Linked DNA regions of Homo sapiens: regions 2 and 3 are each reported to be linked to region 1. Evidence: microRNA targets listed by miRTarBase, many of them from high-throughput screens and not tested one by one. Region 1 holds a microRNA gene; each other region holds the end of a gene's coding sequence.

What was found. Region 1 holds the annotated microRNA hsa-miR-3140-3p (AGCUUUUGGGAAUUCAGGUAGU, at 4,176-4,197, shown strand). A microRNA usually pairs through its seed, bases 2 to 8, with sites in the 3' UTR of a target mRNA and lowers its output. Matches are read on the target gene's strand: a 7mer-m8 pairs with bases 2 to 8, a 7mer-A1 pairs with bases 2 to 7 and ends in A, and an 8mer does both.
Region 2: miRTarBase lists ROBO1 as a target of hsa-miR-3140-3p. Seed matches in the 3' UTR shown: 7mer-A1 at 5,377-5,383.
Region 3: miRTarBase lists FAM168B as a target of hsa-miR-3140-3p. Seed matches in the 3' UTR shown: 8mer at 6,898-6,905.

Annotation. Positions count from the first base shown.
Region 1 is chr4:152,485,134-152,493,532 of GRCh38, reverse strand. It overlaps MIR3140 (microRNA 3140), which reads left to right and starts at 4,117; the gene lies at 4,117-4,206. The region is part of intron 2 of FBXW7 (F-box and WD repeat domain containing 7); the gene reads left to right. RefSeq lists an enhancer at 7,288-7,557.
Region 2 is chr3:78,592,562-78,600,226 of GRCh38, forward strand. It overlaps ROBO1 (roundabout guidance receptor 1), which reads right to left. Exons shown (of 31, transcript NM_002941.4): 30 at 7,552-7,665; 31 at 4,678-6,366. The coding sequence ends at 6,352. Among named protein-coding and RNA genes, the nearest start is that of LINC02077, 550 kb to the left of the region's middle.
Region 3 is chr2:131,047,184-131,054,848 of GRCh38, reverse strand. It overlaps FAM168B (family with sequence similarity 168 member B), which reads left to right. Exons shown (of 7, transcript NM_001009993.4): 6 at 1,834-1,958; 7 at 2,397-6,973. The coding sequence ends at 1,946. ARHGEF4 (Rho guanine nucleotide exchange factor 4) reads right to left here. Exons shown (of 14, transcript NM_001367493.1): 14 at 7,596-7,665. Among named protein-coding and RNA genes, the nearest start is that of SMIM39, 16 kb to the right of the region's middle.

The sequences.
Region 1 (8,399 bases):
AATTTTGGGGGAGACAGTTTGGCACATAATCTCCTAGCAGGTTTAAACAGTTTTGAAAAACTATCCTTGGCTGGACGCATTGGCTTACACCTGTAATCCCAACACTTTGGGAGGCCGAGGCGGGTGGATCACCTGAGGTCAGGAGTTCGAGACCAGCCTGACCAACATGGTGAAACCCTGTCTCTGCTAAAGATACAAAAATAAGCCAGGTTTGGTGGCACATGTCTGTAATCGCAGCTACTCGGGAGGCTGAGGCACGAGAATCGCTTGAACCTGGGAGGCAGAGTTTGCAGTGAGCCAAGATTGCGCCACTGCACTCCAGCCTGGGCAACAAAGCGAGAGTCTGTCTCTGGAAAAAAAAACAAAAAACAAAAAAACTATCCTTTAAACTCTTTGGTTTTCATTTTGCCTCTCTGATCTATTGCTCTTCAGCCTTTTTTTAACAGGCTTCTCTTCTGCTTGGTTATTAAAAGTAGAAATTTCTTGAGTCTTGGTCCTTTGGTATTTTCTGCTTCTCTTACTTCTGTTATTTCTCCCCAGGCAGTCTTACCACTTTGATTTCCATTTATGAAGGAACTGCATACCTGTTGTTCCAGCACTTAATTTGCCTGAGTTTCAGACCTATTTAATAATGCCATTTAGCTTATCCTAGAGGTACCTTAAAAAAACGAGTTCAAATCTGAACTCATAATAATCCCCATCCATGTGATTTGACCCTAATCTACCTCCTTAGCCTTACTATTCTTTGTTACTCTTTGCCATAGCTGCACTATAGCAAAGCACGGCCTCTTGGTCCAGGCGTAATATACCTTTTCCTCCAGAGTCTTTGCTCTTATTTCCTATGTTAATATGCTCCTCATTTTTCATTTACAACATTACCCAGTTTTCAATACATACAAAAGATAAAAACATTAGTTATTAGGGAAATGCAGACTTAAACCATAAAATAATCACTAAAACCAACTAGAAGGGGTAAAATTAAAAAGACTGTCAACTACAAATATTCTAGGAAGCCATCCAGAACACTCGTAAATTGCTGGTGTGAGTATAAAATGGGAGAGCCACTTTGGAATACCACTGGCAATTTCTTATAAATTTAAGCATACACCTTTGGATCCAGCAATTCTACTTCTAGGTGTTTTCGGAAAAGGAATGAAAACATGTCCACAAAAAACTTTTAAAAATTATATTTACAGTCGATTTACTCCTTACAGCTGACAACTAGAAGCAGCCCAAATGTCAATAGGATTAATGACTAAAAATTTTTTGGTATATTCATACAATGGAATGCCACTCAGTAATAAAAGAACTACAGAATGGCAAATGTACACAACATGACATGGATGAATCTGACATACTTGGCAAAGGAAGCTGGACATGATACTGTATTATTCCATTTATATTAAGTTCTAGAAGAGGCAAAGCTACTCTGGAGTGAAAAAATAAAAACAGAACAAAGGTTGCCTTTTGCTTCTGGAAAATGGTGATATTCAACTGGGAGGGTGCATAAGGGGCCTTCTTGAAGTGATGAAAATGTTCCATATCTCATAGAGGTGTGTGTTACATGGGCTTATCTATTAAAGTTGTACAGCTAAGAAGTATGTATTTCAATGGCATACATGTATCTTAGATAAAATAAACAAGTTTTATCTAAAAATTATAGAAATAATTGAGTTAGGTGACAGGGAGTGGGAGGTGTAGATGAAAGAAGAATTGCAGAACGTTGGTGGTTGCTGAAGTTGAGTAATGGATGTGGGGAAGTTTAGTATACTATTTTGTTTGTTTTTTGTGTGTTCAAAGTTTTCCATATAAAGATCTTTTTAAATCAAAGTTACGAAGACACTTAAACAGCACCTGTGGTCTGACTGCCAGCTTAATAAAGAATGCTTACTAATGTAATTTTCTTCTCTGTGAATCGTACCCTGATTCAGCACTCCTTTCTCCCCACCAGCCACTATCCTGAATTCCTCTTGACTTTTTAAGACATCTTCCAAATATCATTCTAAACGTCACGTCCATGGGGGAAAGCCTTTTCTGATTCAGAACACTCACTAGTTTTAAGTGCCCCTGTTAAGTCCTTTCATAGCTTTTATCTTAATTATGATTTATTTGCTTAACTATTATCAACCTCTACACTAGACTAAGCCTAAGTTTTTGGAGGGAAAGATATATCTATTCTTGCTGTTTTAATGTCTAGAATAATAATACATTTATTGAATGATTATGTTGGTGTAGTTTTTTAAAAAAATTGAAGGATACCCAAATTGAAGAGCTATTCTATTACTGCTTATGTTGTAAGGTCAGTATGTTATAAAATGTATGAATGTGAGAGAATGACTGAGAAATGATAATGGTTTCTTTCTGATTTTATTGGCATCTGATAAAAACAAGGGGCAATAAAACTGTGTTATTAGATCTGGAACTATATCCGGAAAGTCCTGTCAGTTGGTTCTCAAATGCCCTTGAGCTTTATTATGCTTCTTCCTTATTAATGTATTAAGCCGTGTGAGTGAAAGACCCCTTTCCTCTTTACAAAGAATATTCTAAATCACCTCTTTTTTCTCTCTTCTCTAATGTGCTTCTTCCTTTGACTATTAGTTTTGGTATTTATCAGGGACAGCGATCTTTAAGAGCTTGTTGTTTTGTTATTTTTTGTACTGCTTGCTGTATGTTTTAAATTTTGATATATCTTACTGCCAAATGAAGGTGTGAGCTCATAAGTAATAAAGATAGAAAAAATCTGCTTTGCTTATAATTATACCATTAAACATGTTGTCCTTAATGCAGATACACACTATTGGTATTGTAGGTGCAGGATTATGTTTTGATTTTTGCCAGTTCATATTTCCATGGAGTATTTAGGCAATTTTAACAACATAGATTTCTGTAATGAATGTTTTTTTAACTTATGCTGCTGCTTGAGAGACAGAGTCAGACTGCCAGGGTTTGAGTCCTATGCCCAATATTTCCTAGCTCTGTGACTTTTGAGTTATCTGCTTTTTGCCTGTTTCTTCCTCATTAAAACAGAGATACTAAGTGTACCTTATAGTGTTGTTGGGAGGGCTATTTGAGGTAGTATATGTAATGCCTGGTACTTATTAAATGTTAGATCTTTTTTACTTTCTTGGGTTCTAGGGAGTCCAATAAGTAACAAATTTTTCCTCTAAGGTTTTTTTCTTTATTGGTGGCAAAATATACATAGTATAAAATTTACATTTCAACCATTTTTAAATATACAATTCAGTGGCATCAAGTACATTCACAATATTTTGCAACCATCCATCTCTGTCCATTTCCAGAAGTTTTTCATCATCGCAAATAAAAACTTGATACCCATTAAACAATAACTCCCATCTTTCCTCCCCTGATTTCCTGGTAACGTATGTTATACTCTGTCTTTATGATTATGACTATTCTAGGTACCTCATAAATAGAATCATACAGTGTTTGTCTTATTGTCCTCTCATTTCATTTGGCATAATATTTTCAAAGTTAATTCATGTTGTAGCGACTTCTAGTTCCATTTTTTGTGGTTGAAGAAAGTACTTCCCTAATAGAAATGAAAACATGTTTGCAAGGCTTTTTTTAAAGAATGCTTATGGATTTAGTCATAATAGGTAACAACTGAAAACATTGGTATGGCTGGGTCAAGTTGGACTAATTCACTGTAGCCCAGGGTCATGTAAGAACATGGAGTTTTCAAGGTAGGCATGGGGGTGGTATTGAGGGGAGGGTAGTAAGCATAAAAGACAGTGCTCAGAAGAAGATAAGGGTGCCAGGTTTCAGTTCCAGGGATGTTCACAGTAAGGATTACAGTGGGCTAAATTTTAAGATTAATTTTATAAATTCTAAACACATCCTGTTGACTTTAACTGCAACTCTTAAAATGTATCAATAACATGACTTTATAATTCCTGGAAACTGATATTTTCCCAATACTTTGAAGAGGTTTAAAAATAGTTGACTAATATTAGAACCAATATTTCATGTATTGATTTTTCTCTTTAAGTGACAGTTAGTTTAGAAAATGCTAAACTTAAGTTAGCAGTATAGAGTAGGTATATAGTTATACTGAGTATGAATGTCTTGGTAGGCTTGGAAGCCTACCATTTATGTCCTCTTGAGGTACCTGAATTACCAAAAGCTTTATGTATTCTGAAGTTATTGAAAATAAGAGCTTTTGGGAATTCAGGTAGTTCAGGAGTGACTTTTCTAAAAAACAGAACTGAGCACCATACACTACTTCTTATAGCCTTTTAATTACTGCCAATTGCCTAGAATAAAGTTCAAATTCGAGGGCAACACAAACATGGCCCTTTGTGAACTGACAGACATTTCCTAATAATTCCTTACATACATGATACCCTTGAGCCTTACAGAATTAAGAATTTCTGAATTTACCTTGGTGTTTGATGCATCTGTGTTTCTATACGTGCTGTTTATTTACCTAAAATAGACTATTCTCTATTTAGCCTCAAAAGTCTCATGGAAGGTTTTAAAAAATCCTGTCTAAGCTCTGTTAATTATATTCTTTATACTATTATATTTAGTAGTTAATATTATAAACTACCTTACAGTAATTTTTACAGATACCTGGCTTACTCCCTAAATTGAGTTGCTTGAGGGCAGGAATTGTGTATTAATCTTTGCTGTATTTTCTTTGCCTTGCTTACTGTAGTTGATTGGTGCTAATTGAATAAATGAACATTTATGCTTTTCTTTTTGAGAATATTATATGGGTAGTTCCTTTAGTTGTTTAATAGAAGATAGCACAGACTTCTATACAGATTGGTTTTTATGGGAAAACACAAGAGAATAATTAATTAAAACATAATTTCATCTAGAAATTTCTGCAGTTGGAGCGAATATTTTTTAAGTTATTAACTTACCTAGAGTGGAAGATTGAATTTTTGAATGATAGTGTTTTAGTTATTAAAGTAAATGGCATGTAAGAGAACTTTTAAGTTCATGTGGCAAAACAGGGAAAAATTGCAAAGTTAGAGTCTGTAAGGTTTCTGATGTTTCATAGACTAACAAAAGGTTGCTTTATTAGCAGCATTAATGAACGAATCGCTTTATTGGCCTAGGCATACTGGTAGCATTGTCGTTCCAAAGAGCTGAGAGTTCTTATTTCAATTCATGATTATGTTAGACAAGTGAAGTGAAAGCCGTTGACCTTCTCTTAAGGAGAAAATAGAAAGTTTTTACAAATAGATTATAGATTAAAGCCTTTTAAGGAACATGATGAAGAACTAAATTACTGCTAAATCACTTGAAAAATTTATATTTTTTTATGCACCAGTCTTATAACAGTAGGTTTTTTATAGACCTATTAATTGATATTTAAAATAATAACTTTAATAGGATGATTTTGTAGAGTTAGTCAAAGTGATTGACAAAAGCAAATTATTAAAATAGTCAAACTTTCAATTCTCCAAAGAATGTTCAGTTTTAAAAGCAATATGAGATACAGGAAGTATTAAACTGGAGATGTAATGCCACTTGGATGGCATACTTTTAACATTATTTTTTATTTGTTTAAATGGAATGCATTTTGCTTATTAGAATCATTTTGGAAGTGCCAATTTGCTTCTGTTAATTTACATTAAAGATTAAAATAGGAACCACTGGTGACCTTCTAAATCAAAGTTCTTCAAAACGGTTGTTTTAAACAGCAAGAATTACAGAACTAAGTATTGTATAGCTATTAAAACTGAAAATTATGTAGCAGCAGTCCATTTTAAATTTAACAATTTTAAATGATACTTCAAAATATAAAAAATACAAGGAAGAATATAAGATGCTTATGTATCTGTACTGCCAAAATTTAACAAATGTTAACTTTTTGCTATCACTGTTTCAGAACTTTTTAAAATAAATTAAAAATATAATTGAAGATTACTAATCTCATTCTTTTGCCTCTCTTCTCAGAGGTAATTACTTTTCTAAAGGTATCCTGTAAGTTTTCAATACTTTTTACCACATATTTGTATAAAAAGATAAACAGTACTGATTTCCTTTTAAAATGTGAATAATAATATACTGTTGGCATAACTTTTTAACTTGCTTTTTTCACTCAGTGTTTATTTACATCAAGATTTATTCATGTTGATATTTGTATGTACTTAAAGTTTGTTTATTTTATCCTCTGAATTATTAGTTTGGTCCATTATTTATGATGTTTAGTTTGATTACTTGGTTAAGGTGGTGTGACCTGATTTCTCTATTGTAAAAGTATCCTTTTCCCCTTGATAATTAATCATTAATCTGTGGGGTAATGCCTTGAGACTGAGTAAACATTGTTTCTCAACAGCCTTTCACCCAGTGTTTTTAACATCCATTATTGATTTATGCCTGAATTATTGGTTACATTGATGCTTGCAAAATGATTTTCTACATCTATTATTCTTTCCACATTTATTAGCTGGCATTCTTCTTTCTGTAAAGGAGTTTCTGTCCTTTCACTAAGGGCTCATGGTTTCTTCATTAATTCGGTGAACTAAAATCCATTATTGTTATGTAGTCATGCACTGCATATACGACATTGATCCCATGAGATTATAATGGAGCTGAAAAATTTCTATCGCATAGTGACGTTGTAGCTGTTATAACATGTTAGGACTAACGTCACAACCAACATATTACATGTTTGTAGTGATGTTAGTGTAAGTCAAATCTACTGTGCTGCCAGTCTAAAAGTATAGCACATATAATTGTGTACAGTACATAATACTTGATAATAATAATAAACAGCTATGTTAACGGTTTATGTATTTACTATGCTATACTTTTTGTTGTTATTTTGAATGTACTTCTACTTATTAAAAAAAAAAGTTAACTGCAAAACAGCCTCAGGCAGTTCCTTCAGGACGTACTCCAGAGACATTGTTATTATAGGAGATGACAGCTCTGTGCATGTTATTGTCCCTGAAGACCTTCCAGTGAGACAGTATGTGGAGGTGGAAGACAGTGATACTGATGATCCTGACCCTGTGTAGGGCTAGTCTAATGTGTTTGTTTGTGTCTTAGGTTTTAGCAAAACAGTTTTAAAAGTAAAACAGGAATTTTTTAAAATAGAAAAGGCTTGTAAAATAAAGATAAAAGGAAAGAAAATATTTTTGTGCAGCTGTACAATATGTTAGTTTTACGCTAAATGTTATTACAAAAGTCAGAAAAGTTTAAAAACTAAAAAGTTTATATGAGCTAAGGTTTATTATTGAAGAAAGAAAATGTTTAAAAATAGATGTAGTGTGGTTTGAGTGTATATTTACAAAGCCTACAGCCGTGTGCAGTAACGACCTAGGCCTTCACATTCACTCTTCACTCAATCATTAACTCACCCAGAGCAGCTTCCAGTCCTGTAAGCTCCATTCATAGTAAGTGCCCTATATAGGCATATGATTTTAAAAAATCTTTTATACTGTATTTTTACTGTACCTTTTCTATGTCTAGATATTCTCAGACGCACCATGTTACAGTTACCAGGCAGTATTCAGTACAGTAATATGGTATACAGGTTTGTAGCCTAGGAGCAATGGGCTATACCGTGTAGGCTTGTGTAAATACACTCTGTGATGTTAGCACAGTGAGGGAATAGCCTAACAAACACATTTCTCAGAAGATATCCCTGTGGTTATGTGACGCATGACTGTGTATCCTTTGGTGACTCAAATTGTTAAAATTTAGCCAGCGAGAACTCAATCAGTCTGGTTTCTGTTTCTTTGACATGCCCCCTCATTTTTATAGCACCAGTTTGCTTTGTGGCACAACAAAACATTCTCTCCTTACCTTATGGTTTTCTTACCCCAGACCTGGACTTGGCTATTTTACCAAAAGTTCTTGTTTCTCTTAGTGGGGAATGGTATTTGGAAGCCAACATCATGGATGCATTACTGGGTGTCATTGCTTCTATTGGTTCTTTTCATTAGACAGAATAAGAAAATATACTTTTAAAAACTAGTGATATTTGAATTCCTAGTGACACCAAGGTTCTTTTCTTTCCTTGTTTCATATTCCTCTTCCATAATGAAGATCCAGTTTACCAATAACATCAATATATGTTTATTCATTTGCTCTGTCTTATACATGATATAACATTGGAATTACTATAGCAATACCACTACTAATAATAATCTCAATAAAGTTTAAGATTTCTATGCAGTTTTTTATTTATAGCGTATAGCCCAGTGAAGGTATATAGTCAGATCGCTATGCTTATAGTTATTTTAATTATATTTTTCACATAGGCAATTTGAAACTTTTTCTAATAGGAAGGTTAAGCCTATTTACTTATCTTGACATAACTAGTATGTTTAATCTAACTGATATGTTGTATTTACTGTTGTTTTATGTTATATATGTTTTTCTTTTACTCTTTTTTAAAAAGTTATTTTTACTAA
Region 2 (7,665 bases), not on the chromosome of region 1:
TTCTGAATTGTGCAGCTCCTCAAATATTAATCCCATATGCAGGGGGCCTGGGCCTACATTAGTCCTCCTCCAGGCTCCAGTACCCAGTCCTATTGGCACTGCCTTCCCAGGCCCATCTCAGGCACCAGAGGAGGACTTGAAAGTTTCAAGGAAGGCAGGCCAAAGTACAGGTACTGGGCAGGAAAAGAAGCCCTACTTGCCCAGGTTACTTTTTTAAATTTCTGAAGCTGAGCAGGCTATAAAAGTAACTTGAACCAGAGGCATTAAAAGCTGTTTTACTCAAAGTTGAAGAGCTCAGAGTTTTTCCCAAACAGAAAGAGAATTTCTGAAAGAGGGAAGATTAACTTAGATGTGGAGCTAGTGATTTATGTCAAAGATTTGAATTTTAAAAAGAAGTACCTGTATTAGGCAGTTCAAGCTTCTGTAACGAAGTCCCATAGACAGGGTGGCTTGTAAACAAGAGAAATGTATTTCTCACAGTTTTGGAAGCTGGAAGTCCAAGATCACAGGGCTAGCATAGCTGACTTCTGGTGATAGCCCTCTTCTGGGTTGCAGACTGCTGACATTTCCTTGTTTCATTGCAGGAAGAAGAAAGAGCTCTCTAGGGTTGCTTTTGTTTGTTTGTTTGTTTGTTGTTGTTGTTGTTTTTTATAAGAGCACTAATCCTATTCATGAAGCCTCCACCATCAAAACCTAGTTACCTCCCAAACGCCCCACATCCTAAAACCATCACATTGGGGGTTAGAATTTTAACATATGAATTCAGGGAGGACATAAACATTCAGTCCCTAACAGTATCCAATCTATGTAAATATAATGAGTCCAATATAAGGCAATGGGATTGTATACATGTTACTTTTTAATGTAATTTTCATTGAATTTAAAAACTTTGTGTGTCACTGTGAAATGCTACCAATTTTTGTCATGATATAATGTCTCAACGATAGTTTTGCAAAACACATAAATTGGTTACACCATGCTCAACTTTGCTTGAAACTTTTTTTCACTTTATTTTGAGGAATTTCATAATTTTACTGGCCTTCAATAACATTGTATATGTGTGTGTGCATATATGTGTGTGTTGGAAGGCACAACTTGAATTACTGTGGATATTTTACTTTCTGTGGTACTGTAAAGCTTGTTGCTTTGCCAGAAAATGCGTAACTGGTTATTCCTCTAAGGATCCAAGTCACATCTCAATGGTGTTTCTCCATGCTTTTTGCTCGTTTTGTTTCAATGCTAATACTGTAAAAAAATTTTCAAAATATGTTAAATGTCAATTAAATTCAACACCTATAGTACCAGAAATTGATAACTGGTAAAAACTCCACCAATGTGAAAGTAATTTGAATACCTATAACTAACTTCATATGTGTACATTATGAAGGAAAATTTATCTTAAATCTGAAAAATGGTAAATTAATGATTGCTTGATTTTTATTACCATACTAAAACATTTTCCAATAATCCTGCCAGCAATAGATGCCTTTGAGGTTTTGCTAGGGCCAAAAGTTCCCTTTGATCCCAGACTCACCTCATTTTGGCACCTTCCCAACTCAACTACCTGCCATGTGCATGTCTTCTTTCTGCCTTAGGGTCTTCCATTCACACTTGGTCTGCTCACTAGTACCGGGAAGTGAAATCCCCTGCCCCGCCTGCAGCCTGAAACCTTCAGCTAATGGGGAATAATTTTGGGCTACTGTCCTTCAGTGAAAAGTTCTGTTAGGCATTCTGTGTGCTCCTGGGAAGAGCCGGTAGAGTACCTGGTAGAGGCACCTTCACCTACTTTGAAGGATCTATATTGAATTTTATTCCCCTCACACTCCCACTTCCTGGGATTCTATCCCAAATAAACTGTTTGCATCCAAGTCTTTGTCGCAGGCTCTGCTTCTGGGGAAACATGAACAAGAGTAAGTCACTGTCGAACCTTTATCTGATTCTCCTGAGTGAATGTAAATTACCAAGGTATATTTTCGACAGATAATTTCCAAATGATAAAGGTGGCCGACTTCAGACTTCCTGTAGTCTTGAAGGTTAATGGTTATTTAACCTAAAGAAAAAGATAGATGTCATGACTCTCTAGCCCAGTAAAAATTAGTATCATGTTTGTATTGCCCTGTAGAAAGTTTACTAACTCGGCTGGGTGCGGTGGCTCACGCTTGTAATCATCTCAGCACTTTGGGAGGCTGATGTGGGTGGATTGCCTGAGGTCAGGAGTTCAAGACTAGCCAGGCCAACATGGTGAAACCCCGTATCTACTAAAAATACAAAAATTAGCCGGGCATGGTGGCGGGCACCTATAATCCCAGCGGCTCAGAAGGCTGAGACAGGGAGAATTGCTTGAACCCGGGAGGTGGGGGGTTGCAGTGAACCAAGATCATGCCATTGCACTCCAGCCTGGGTGACAGAGTGAGACTGTCTTAAAGAAAAAAAAAAAAGAAAAAGAAAAAAAAGAAAGTTTACTAACTCAGCCATCATAGTTAAGTTTCTTTCACAGCTGCCATTTGACTGCTCTTTGTCTTTCTGCTGTTTACTGTATTAACGAGGTAAACAAAAGTTTGATGCATGCTCTGTTTCTTTGAGGCTTATGTTTTTAAACAGCGAGCAATGAAAAGGTGAAAGTGATTGTGAGACACTAATGCCTATAAGATTCATTTCAGTTTCAGCTGTACTACGATGAAACTTATCTTTGAGTTGTTAGGGTGGTAGCTACCAAACTATTTTTAACATAAATAGGATTGCCTCCAAAATGCAAATTATTAGGCTCTTTTCTTCAAAACTGCAGAAGTTGCTCTCACCCCTTCCCTCAACCAACACACAGTCCAAATGCAGCAAGCAGTTTAGGGGCCATTGTAGTATCTTGTGAGACCCCAAGGAAGTCTCAAGTCCTTAGAGCCCCAGCATGGCACAGAAGAGCATATGGAACTCTCCTTCCTTACTCTTTACACCCACCCTACATTGAAGGACTTAGAAGTATCAGGAGAGGATCAATGGATAATAAGAGGCATTAAGGTTGGGAGAAGAGGATACAGAGTAAAGTTCTGACAAAAATGAAGATCATTTAATGAAACTTGGCCAACAGCAATCCCCAAAGCCGCCTGCTTCCTGACCACCCACACATTCTACACATGGGGACAGCTCTGAAATTCAGATGTCACTGTGTGCAAAGAAGAAATCCAGACTATATATGAAATAATCAAAAAAGCCAGGTATCGTCGATTTCACCTGGAATTAAGATTATATCTTCTGCCACTAGGCAGAATAGCAGCCCAAAATAAACAACGAGTTTAATTGTTGAGAACTCCTGTCTGTACCCACGAATTGTGAAATGTGTGCTGCAGACACCATAACACCACCCGCTGTGTGGCCCTCGAATTCAAGAGCAACAAAACAAACAAAAACACCAATTATTTATTCCACAATTAGGAATTTCACAGTGAATTTTACTCACCGGAAATGAAACCACCCTCATCCTGGTACCACACTTATTCTTTGACTTTCGTGCAAATACTCAGAAACAAACTAGGTATGAAAAGCAGGGATTGCATGTGTAATGAATTTCAGTCCATAAATATAACAATATCTTGTATCATTGATGGAGTTTACAGAGTCCATATCATACACATTAACTCACTGAATCATGACAACGGCTCCATGAGGTAGGTATTATTGAATTTACAGGTGAAGTACCTGAGACTTAGAGGTTAAGTAACATCTCCGAGGAAACACAGCTGTGACAAAACTGCGACTCAAACCCAGGTCCTCTGATATACAGAATCGGTATGTATTATCACATATTATAAATAAAGAGAGAGACTAACTTATATTTATAGTCAACTCACCAGGGGTAAGAGAGAAATTACGTCACTACACATGTCCCTCTAATTTTTCCTTAAAGTAGCTTTTAGAAATTGACTTCTTGACCTGTGGACCTGTTCATCTTTAAGTAGATGCTGGTGATTACTTCATTTTTATAAAATTAAATTTCAGATTAAACCCCTTTTTTTCACTGTTTTCCCTCATATTTTCAAATTCTGATAAACACAAAATTTAGGTAGAAGAGCAATATATATGTGAAAGGGAAAAAACCTACATCAGATTCTGTTGCTCTTGGAACTTCCAAGACATGGTGCCCATATTGTTCATCTAAAGTTGAATACCTGGATACACTAACTAACTTTAATAATGTATAACCTGGTATATGATAGGTATTGTTAAAATTTTACGTGAATTCGTAACAAGAAAGCAGATAGTTACTGATAAGCATTTCAGAGTTATATAATTAATTTTCTTGCTGACAGAACATAGGTGGCTCAAACTTTACAAATCACATTTATCTAGTTGAATCCCAATTATTTTAGAAATAGATGAAATAGATTAACTGAAACTCAGATACACATACATAAACAAAAATAATATACCCTTAATATTAAAGAAGACTTAGTCTCTGATCCAATTATTCACTTCTAGGTCTTGACTGATCTTACATTTTTAATTTCAGAGGACTTAGGTAAAATTTTGCTTACAGTAAAGCCTGGTTATTCATACAACTAATTGAGAATTTTCACTCATCTGATAATACAGGGGTGAAATGTTAAGACAGAACGACTTTGTGATTAAATGGAATAAATTTGATCAGCACACAATGAAAAAAGAAATCAACACAAGAAAGAAAGATGTATTTGAGAACATTTTTAATAAATAATGTGACAAAATTACTTTTCTGATTATTGGATTTTCAGTATGCAAAATTATGGCTAAAAATAAGGGGCTTCTTACATGAACATAATGAAAACATTAATCACATGGATTGTTCCCTTAGTACTGCACGCCTTTTCTATGGAACTTTTTCAAATTATCTAAATGAACAAGTTTGGTTTTGGTGAACACCAGCCTTTTTTTTTGTGGTTCAGTTTTGTTTGGCTTTGTTTTCCACTGGGGTCAGACCTGATACTTATCTATCTATGAATAAATGTACATTTTTTTCTTCAAATAGCACCAATTATAAAATCAATGATATTCATAAAATGACAAAAAAGGATCATAGAAATCTACTAGTCAGAGGGCATCATTTGTCAATTGAAAGCAAGTAATGCCTCTATTAGAGATTTTAAGGAAATCTTGTAGGTTTCGACATTGGCCACAACAAACTTAAACCTCTTTTTTTCTTTAAGTCCAGGAAAAGTAAGAACCATTTGGTTCATGGCCCACAATAAAGTATGCATGTTACTTCACCATCTGTCATTATTCAAATATTCCAAATACAAACATAGAGCATTAACAAAACAGGTTAAAAACGCTTCTCAACATTTTTTTTTTCAATAAGACAAAAAAGGTTAATAGTTACAATGGTTTACAAATAAAGTTTAGTGATTGTGCTTTTAAAACCAAAAAAAAAAAAAAAAAGAGAGAGAGATTAAAAACAGTGCATTACAAAAACAAAAATCAAACTTCCTTAAGTGGCACTTCTGAAAGTTGAACTGACACTACCAGAAGAAATTTAGGCCAGTTAAGACAGGGATGTTCTTACTCAATTGGTCATTAAAAACATCCACTTGTTTGTAATACGTATTTATAATTACTTTTTGATGATTGAAAAATAGAACAAGGTTTTACTAGGTTTACTTATGACAATGACTAGACAACCAGAGATCCAACTGGCTTAGCCCTACTTATCCAAAAGTACATTTCCAATAAGAATATACTTCAATGATTGAAATGAAGCCAAAATAAAATACCACCAGGGTTTGCAAAGAGTAAATATTTACAATGTTTCTACCCCATTCGAATTGTTTGTGGTTCTGCATTTGCTATATTTTTAGTTTCTTCCAGCAAAGGGTAGTATGAAAAACTGATTTTGAAATCATGTTAAAATGAAATATGTTTTAATTTGCATTAGCAGTTGGCTATAGAAAGATTATACTTTGAGAGCCCTTGTGAGGTTGAATATCAACTTTCTATATTTGATCAATATCTTGCTATAAATTAGCTTGGCATATAAGCAGTGCAATGCCATATCTCAGCGGCAAAATGCAAAAGAACAGTTTTGTTCCCTCTTGCTGGCTGATGACTGAAGCAAGAAGTCAAAGCACTTTGCTTGCTGGAAGTAAGGTATAATGGTTTGCTCCAACAGCGAGGGGAATAGGAAGGCTCTTTGTAGGGTTAGGGATCAAACAACAACAATAAAAACCCAATAAAGTTTTTAAAATGATATCCCAATAAGAGGAATAAAAACGACAATTTGTACACTCTGATTGCACTGAACATTTTATCTGGCGTCATGTGTCATCTGACAGGAGGCATCTTGAGTGATGATTTTCACATTAGATCTCATAAGCCTCTTGGTTGTCTTCAGCTTTCAGTTTCCTGTAAGAGATACGTTATTGTCACATTTGAAAATAAATCTTAAGAGGATTGTGTTATATTTATTTATATGCATTTATTATTATTATAATTTAATGTGTCTTTTCATTTATTCAATGGACTATGTTGGAAAGGGCTCATGTCAACTAATTCATTCATCAACCTTAATTGGTCTTCACAGCAAATTCAACAAGTACCAAACTGGGTTCTGCACAGTGCCCCGGTGTTGCGTGGTGGGACACAGGGCTCTGAGAAGCGGGAAGGAATGTGTTGAGTTATCTAATCCCCTCAGCCCCAAGTCAACATTACAACTCTGCTTTTGTTGGTTTTAAATACTGGAGTTAACAGTAAGGCCATTCTGTTCCCCCAAAAGGCTACTTCTATTTTAAAATAAACTAAGACCTGAAAAACAACTTCTCTGTTTGCAGGAGGAAAGTCTTTCTCATTCTAAACCTCAAAATCGAAATACATTGAGCTTTATAGGACTTTCAATTAGACATAATGGCCTATACCTTTTCAGCTTCTACTATAAAAAGTTGTCATTTGACACGTATTTATCTACTTGAGTTTAACTATATTTATTAAAAAATTTTCCTCAACTTTTATTAAATTGAGAAAATACAATCTTTGAATGGGTGAGGGGAGAATTTATGATATGTCAAGGCTAACAAGAGAGTATATCTTTGACGTAAGAAGTTTCCTCCAACTGGGGAGGTCAGTGTCACAGACTAGGCATACACTTTCAGAAGTGTAAAGGTGAAGGACAGTTAGCCAAACCAGCCACATTACCCTGGTGCTGACTATGGCAACTTCCTCACTCACATCATATAACTCTGTCATCTTACTGGGTTTTTATAGCCTGCTACAATGCTATGAATTATAATAGCTCTAGATCAACAGCTCTTACTTCTTAACAATGTGTTTGCCATATATGTTTCTTATCTGAAAATCTGCAAATGAAGATAAACCCTAGCTAAACAAATAAACTGCCATTAACATTTAAAACTTTGGGACACATTTCAAGAAAATTCTCAAATTCTCAGAACTTCAGTTTCTGCCATCATAGACATTAGAGTACTGAAAAGTTTGCAATAAAACAGTAACATTTCTGTACACTGATGAAGGTTCCTAACTACATAAAACAACCACAGTCTAACATTGGTAAACTTGGGGAAAAATTATAGATACCTCTAATTCTTCATTATTATCTTCTCCTCTTTCATATCCTCCAAGTACCTGCATTTCTGCAATATTTCTTCGACCTACATTTGCTTGTTCTCTTTGTCTGCTTCCTGATCCTCT
Region 3 (7,665 bases), not on the chromosome of region 1:
TTGATAGAAGAAACAGCTGCCTGTAGAAATCCTTTGGCATTCATCTACCGTACTTTACTTTGCAAGGCCTCCTCTAAGGAAAATAAACCATGGAAAGATGAGGCCCCTGGCTGGGATGGGCACATCTCCGCGGAAGCCCTGGGGGTTTGATCTGATGTCTAGGGATTGGGTGACCACCCAATCTGTATGACCACCCATGTGGATTCACCTCCTGGTCTCTGGGTCAATATGACCACCTTTAGGTCATGCCCACACAAAAGCGTACTGTTCCCTCCTTGTTTTTCTGGACTTGACTTCAGTGTAAGGAAATTATGCCAGAGAGAAAAGCATTCCGGGTTATTATGTGTGCTTCAATGTAGACTCTGATTTGGTTTTCCCCATACTTATCTGTCAAGGAACAGGAAACTGGGCATAGACAGAAACTGCTGGTTTGAGGCACAGGGAGGGAGGGCAGCAGGCACCAGGTTGGGTGCCACTGTGTTGGAGGTGGTGCTGGTCCATAAAGGGACTCAAGTAGTTGTTGAGTTTCTGCAGTTGTAGGAAAAATAGATTTCTCTTAAAGAACTCAGAAGCTCATGTAGTTTAGAATCCTCATTTCTTTTTTTTTTTTTTAATTTTAAAATTTTTAATATTTTTTTTTAAGACAGGGTCTCATCCTGTCAGCCAAGATGGAGTGCAGTGGTGTGATCTCAGCTTACTGCAACCTCTGCCTCCTAGGTTCAAGTGATTTTCCCACCTCATCCTTCCCAGTAGCTGGGACTACAGGCGCCTGCCACCATGCCTGCCTAATATTTTTTTGTACCTTTTGGTAGAGATGGGATTTCACCATGTTGGCCAGGCTGGTCTCGAACTCCTGACCTCAGGTGATCCACCTGCCTCGGCCTCCCAGAGTGCTGGGCTTACAGGCGTGAGTCACTGTTGCCAGCCTCTTGTTTTTTATTTATTTGTTTTTACCATCTTAACTTTTTTTTGTTGAGACAGGGTCTTGCCCTTTTGCCCAGGCTTGAGTGCAGTGGTGCGATCACAGTTCACTGTAGTCTGGAACTCATGGGCTCAAGCCATCCTCCCACCTTAGCTTCCTGAGTAGCTGGGACTATAAGTATGCTACCACACCTGGCTAATTTTAAAACTTTTTGTAGAGCTGGGATCTCACTATGTTGCCCAGGCGCATCTCAAGCTCCTGAACTTAAGCTATCCTCCCACCCCAGCCTCCCAGAGTGTTGGGATTACAGACATGAGCCCCTGTGCCCAGCCCATCTTAACCCTTTTTAAGTACGGTTCAGTAGTGTTAAGTATATTCACATTGTTGTGAAACAGAGCTCCAGAACGTCTTTATCCTGCAAATCTGAACTCCTGTACTCATTAACGCTAATTCCCTGTTCTACTTTCTTTCTGTCTCTGAATTTGACTACTCCAGGTACTTCATCTAAGTGGAATCATTAAGTATTTGTCTTTTAGTGACTGGCTTCTTTCTTTCAGAATTATGTTCTTAAGGTTCATCTATATTGTAGCATGTGTCAGAATCTCCTTCCTTGTTAAGGCTGAAGCATACTCATTTGTTTATCATCTGACCTATAAAAATTATTGGGTGTGCTTTATGAAGGGGACACACAAAAGGCTTTTACGAACATATTGTCTGTGGAGCTTGCTGTGTGGAGACAACTTTTGGGTGTGGGGGATTATCTAATCAGAGTTCTGACAGTATCTGGGTCAAGACTATCCCTCTTCCTGTATACCCTCCTCCTTGCAAAGAGGCCAGGCTTGTGTGCGTATCAGGCAGTGTGGAGCTGTGCAGGAGGTCAGCCTCATGTCATGTGCTGCTCTTTCTTCCAGGTACCCTGCTGACTGCTCACTCCCCAACTCCTGTCGCCCCCCACCCGGTCACTGTGCCCACGTACCGGGCCCCAGGAACGCCCACTTACAGCTATGTGCCCCCTCAGTGGTGATCACCTGCAAATGTAAGTGACCAGGGAAGGCTGGGCTAGCCTTTGATGAAAGGGCATTTCCATGGGACAGTGGCAAATTTACCACATATTTAAGCACTAACGAGGAAAGTGTGCCTGACCCTGGATCCAGAGGCAATGTAGTGTTTAAATTTTTTGTTTTTATTGAGACATTACAGAGTAGAAGGAAGGAAGGAACCATTGAATACCTACTGTTGACACTGTCCATCTTGAGCCTTGCCTGGAATGTGCTCTAACCCCCCACCTGCCTGCTACAGGAAATAGGGCTCCAGTTGCAATTGGGGGTCTCTAGGAAGGAAGTGAGAACCAGGTCCAGCAGTTTTGCCCATTGCTGCCCTTTCCGACCCTGCTGGGCCTCATCCTACTTGAGATTTTGGAATAGCGGTGCCGGAAGAGCTCTGTGTGACTGAGTGTCTGTCTTCCTTTCTGCAGGTTTGAGGACGGAGCTGTGCAGTCACATTATTGGGGATTCCACAGCTGGTGCTGCAGGCCTTGCGCCTCCAACCAGGACTTTCTTCTTAATGCTCTCGACACTTAGCTAAACACGACTATATCCCGGCCCAGCAGGCCCCAGCGCCGTTAGTCTCCAGCTGACTCTGTGGGTTGGTCTTAAAGCAAATTCTGTTTTGTGGACTGCCTGGCAATTTTTTAGCTAACTGTAATGATAAAAAGGGAGTATTAATCTATTCTGAATCATATCTAGTTGAATGCATGTTTAAAAAAACAAACACAAAAAGCTTGCTCAATCTACCTGCAGTGACTGATGCAAAACCATCATATGCAAAATCCAAAGGAATGGAAACGTATTTTACAACTTGTATCACTAATGCACTGTTGTAATGTATGCAAAGTCTTACAGTTATAAGTGTTAAAGTGAATTTCTTCATAGAGCATCTGAAATATCTTAGATGATTCTTCAACCTTTTGGGGTTGATGTGGGTTGCCAGTTAGGGATGTGGACATTTTAGTTTTCAGCGACCTGTTTCTTTGGCACTGACTGTCCTGGGAGGGAGTTGCGAGGTTTGGGAGAGAGTAGGGAAGCCACAGCTGCTTGGGTGCAGCTGGTTCATGGACATCCCTTTGAGTTTAGGCTTGGTGGAGTCAGTGGAACAGGGACATGCTTAAAGCTCATCATGAAAGATTATGGTAGTGTGGCCAGTGAAATTTGGGGCGAGGGGGGTGGTTTATGTGTCAGCAAAGCAGTTTCTCTGCTATCTAAATTTTCATTACAGTTCTCTTAGAGAGATGATGTTTTTATATGTCTTTATTGGAAAAGTCCTATGTAAAACTAAATTATTTTCCTGGGATGGAAGAAATGTGAAAGAGAAACAGCCATGCTTGCAGGAGGTATTGTCCTCTGCTTTATTTAGCTTAGAAAATCATTCCTTTTTTTTTTTTTTTCCTGGAGAAATGTTTGAATCAGCTGAAAACAGGTAGGCATTGCTGTTTTTCCCCAACAAAGAAGGGCAAAGGTTTCAGCTGTATGTTATGAAGAAAGTGGTATATTTAAGAATGAGTTAAAAGGGAACAAAACTTTATTTAAAATTCCTCCAATTTCTTGTAGAAAGGCAGGGCCGTGGATATGTCTGGAAATGTAGAAACCTGTAGCTGCTTCTGGGATCACCCACCTGATGGTGGTGACTTGTCTGCTGAGGCCGGCTGGAGGGGACGCTTAGAGATGGGGCGAGGGGGAGGCCAGTGTCTGTTGTCTGCGAGCCTCTCCTGCCATCTCTTTTGCAGCTGAGGGCACTTGGCACAAAGCAAGCACAGACAGCAGAGAGGGCCAGGCAGTGCTGGAGTGCGTTTGCTGGCAGGGTTTATTGTGGGAGAGGAATTTGAGTTTAGGATCTGAATCTTGTACATAAGAAATGAAAAGGCTTCCCTCCACCCCGCCCCCAAAATATGCCCGTCCTGTATCCATGAGAGTGCATGTCGGTTCTCAGTGAGGGTCAGAGTGGGGGTGGGGGATGTAAGGCCTGGGTCCCTTTCAGCGGCCTCTAGGGCAGGAGCGTGCGTCTTCTTCCCAGTGCAGTGGTGGTTTGAGTGCTGTGGGCTCTGGTGGGGAGGGGGCTCTGCTCCTCTTCATTTGCTGGTAGCTGGGTCAGGGCACTGGCGCCCAGTGAGGATGCCCACTAGCATTCTGCCCCAGTTGGTTGGTGGGGGGACACCTGACCACTGAGCCTTTGGTAACCTTATTTTTTATAGTAAGTACTTCTTATAATTTTCTTTTTCACATCTTATTTTATAAGAAGTTTAGGAATATTTTTGCATGGATCATTGTAAACAGCAGATTCTTTATTCCTGATGTCTATTAACATAGAATGTTTACTGATAAGTACTTTAAATTGCTTCATGAGCACTTAATCCATCTTAGTGTCTATGTGTGGGGGCAGACATTTACCGCAGGCACACAGTTTGTGCCCCTTTCTTCAAGTCTCTGTTGGTAATTCCATCTGTTTAGTGGATGGTTGGCAGGATTAGTAGGTTCTAACGGTTCCAGGGGTTCAGCTGACCAAGTAGCAGAGAAGTCTTTTTTCCCAATTGAGTGCTAATAGATTAGGATAAAATACTCACAATGTTAGTGTATGCTTTTAAAAAGCCCCACACAACAAAATGGAAACATACATGTACAACTCCTGTGAGGGCTGGAGTCTTGGGGTTCAGGAGGAGGTTAGAAGTTACAGGCATCTCTTCAGGCTTGCTTGGTACTTGGCACACACAGGATGGTGTTTTAAAGAGTGGGCTGCACCCCCCACACGCCATTTACATCAGCTTCATAAACACTTTTCTTCCTCCCTGTAACTTAACCTTTTTTCCCTTTTATGAAGTTGAGAGGCTTTATGAAATAAGTTTGCATTGCACATCCGTGCAGAAATCTTTCTGACTTTGAAATTTTTAGGACGTCAGCTGTCAGATACGAAAGGTAGATATCAGGTAAGAATCTGGACTTAGGAAATAGTCACAAAACTGTCATAGGTTGTAATTTTATCAACATTCGCTTCTAGTAAAATTAAAGTCAATTAAGAAATAGAACTTGGGTCAAAATTCTGTTACAAAGCTTCATAATTTGTCCCGAAGCATATGGTGGAGCATTCTGAGAAATTTGCTTTTTGTGTGTTTGACATTCCTAATTTGGGAGTCCTTCAGCTGAATTACTATTCTTTTAGAAGTTGAGACAGCAGGTAAGCAAAGGACCTAGTTCATGTAAACATGGACATCATGATGGCTATTTAAAAAATATTTGTTCTACACCTTCTCCCCTGAGGCTTGGGGAGTGTGTTCAGCCGCTGCAGTTTCTCTGCTCATGGAGGTCTTGTTTGGATCTGTGCTGGCGGCTGAGCATTTAGTGTGAGCCAGTGACCCATGAACTTGCCGCTCTGTGAGGGCCAGAGTCAGGGCCAGTCATGGTAATGGGCCTGAAGGCACTTCCAGAACCTTTTATGTCTCTCGTGAGCCATCTGTTAAGAACGTTCTTCTTGGTGTGGTTTGTAGGCCTACCTGTCGCTATTCTGGGAAACCTTCTTGAGTGCTATGCAAATGTGTTCACAGGCAATGGGGGTGGTCCTGAGCCTTGGGGTGGGCACCTGGTCAGTGAGTGTCTTGCCCTTCCCCAGCTGGGCATACAGTACCTTGCTCTTTCTGGTGGCATCATCTGGCTGTGATGAATGAGGTCTAGGAAATAATTTGCATGTGTCTTGGGGGACACAACAGTAACGAGAGGAAATACATTATTACAGCAACTTGCGACGTACTAATACCTGTCAGTGTTGGCCCCCGTAAGGTATGTAAGGCACCTGTGAGTGCCAGTGAGTGCTGGTGAAAGGCCAACATGTACTAGTTATGTAAGTATTGGTGTCTGCTTTAAAAAAGGAGACCCAGACTTCACCTGTCCTTTTTAAACATTTGAGAACAGTGTTACTCTGAGCAGTTGGGCCACCTTCACCTTATCCGACAGCTGACTGTTGGATGTGTCCATTGTCGCCAGTTTGGCTGTTGCCCGGACAGGACAGGACCTCCATTGGGCGCAGCAGCAGGTGGCAGGGGTGTGGCTTGAGGTGGGTGGCAGCGTCTGGTCCTCCTCTCTGGTGCTTTCTGAGAGGGTCTCTAAAGCAGAGTGTGGTTGGCCTGGGGGAAGGCAGAGCACGTATTTCTCCCCTCTAGTACCTCTGCATTTGTGAGTGTTCCCTCTGGCTTTCTGAAGGGCAGCAGACTCTTGAGTATACTGCAGAGGACATGCTTTATCAGTAGGTCCTGAGGGCTCCAGGGGCTCAACTGACCAAGTAACACAGAAGTTGGGGTATGTGGCCTATTTGGGTCGGAAACTGCATGTTTCAGAAAGTTTGTCTCTTTTTCCTACTCATTATTTGAAGAAGAGAGAGCCTGTGGGGATAGCCTTATCTTGGTCCACAGGACTGAAGTGAAGTCACTTGGGAAGGGGAGACAGAGGATGAGCGGCGTCTGTGTAGGGACCCCCCCCCGGGCCTGCAGAAGGGTGGTGTGCTCCCAGGACTGGCATGACAGGTGTCTCCTCCTCACCACAGGCTGTGCCCATGAGTCCCTGTGCAGACCAGTGGGCAAGGCAGCTGGGCCAGATCTCAGGCCAGCCGTTTGTGCTCCTAGCAGGGTTGCTGTGCTGGCCACACGGAGAGGCCCTAGAGAGCCTCATGGATTGTAACTAAAGAAGAAACGGTTCCTTTTTGTTTTTTTAAAAATGATTTTTAAATACCGTTTTTTACACCGTTCTCTCGGTACTTTTTTTAAGCTAAGTCAGCATTGTCTTCCAGTGTTAAAGGCATCCCTCACCTCTGCATTGAACTTACGTATCCATGCCAAGGAATGGAATTTCCATCCTGAGCCAGTTCAGTTAGGTGTCAATTGATACTATTTTAATTTTTTATGCAATCTGATGAGATGAGCTCAGATTTAAAAATCTCAAAAGCACGTTTATTGTAACAAGAATTGTTATGTATTAATACTGCAGTTTTCAATAAAGATTGACTTGTGTTGCATATTGTGGTTTTCATGATTTCTCCATATGGGTTTTTGTCTAGAGGTAGCATGGCCTGACTGGGAGGTGCTGGGGCTTCTCTCAAGTTGGGAGATTGCCAGGGGTTTTGAGAAGAAGACCACCATGGCGTCCAGCCCCAGTGACCTTGGCAGTGCTGGAGTGTGGTGGAGGCAGCAGGTTGCAGGGGACCATTTTCCCAAGTGGGACAGGGAGGGAAGCAGCACCATGCTCCCCTTCTGGCTTCTGTGGCCAGGGTCAGAAGACCCTGGGAAGACACGTTCTTCCTCATTTCACCAGGGATGCTGAGGCCCAGAAAGATTACTGACTACTCACCCACCAAACTCACGTGGGCCAGCTCCAGTCAAACAAACACAGGGAAGCACTGGTTTCTGGGTCTTGAGTGCAAGGGAGGGCAGAGCTACCTGTATTCCCCATCAGCAACCAGCATGGCCTGGCCCTGCTCGCCTTAGGCGAACAACTGCAGCCAGCCCCGCCTCAGCCTATCATCTCCACTAAATCCCCGAGGGTGTGATCTGCGACAGGTGAGCCCCCACCCCACCTTTAGAGGCTGCTGGCCACAGGAAAATGCACGCACACCCACAGAAAACGGGCTAGCAGCCAGGTTACTTTTCATAAATTTATTTATGAAATTAAATGTGGTTTCTGGCTTGGAGAAGGAATAGTGCAAGAGTG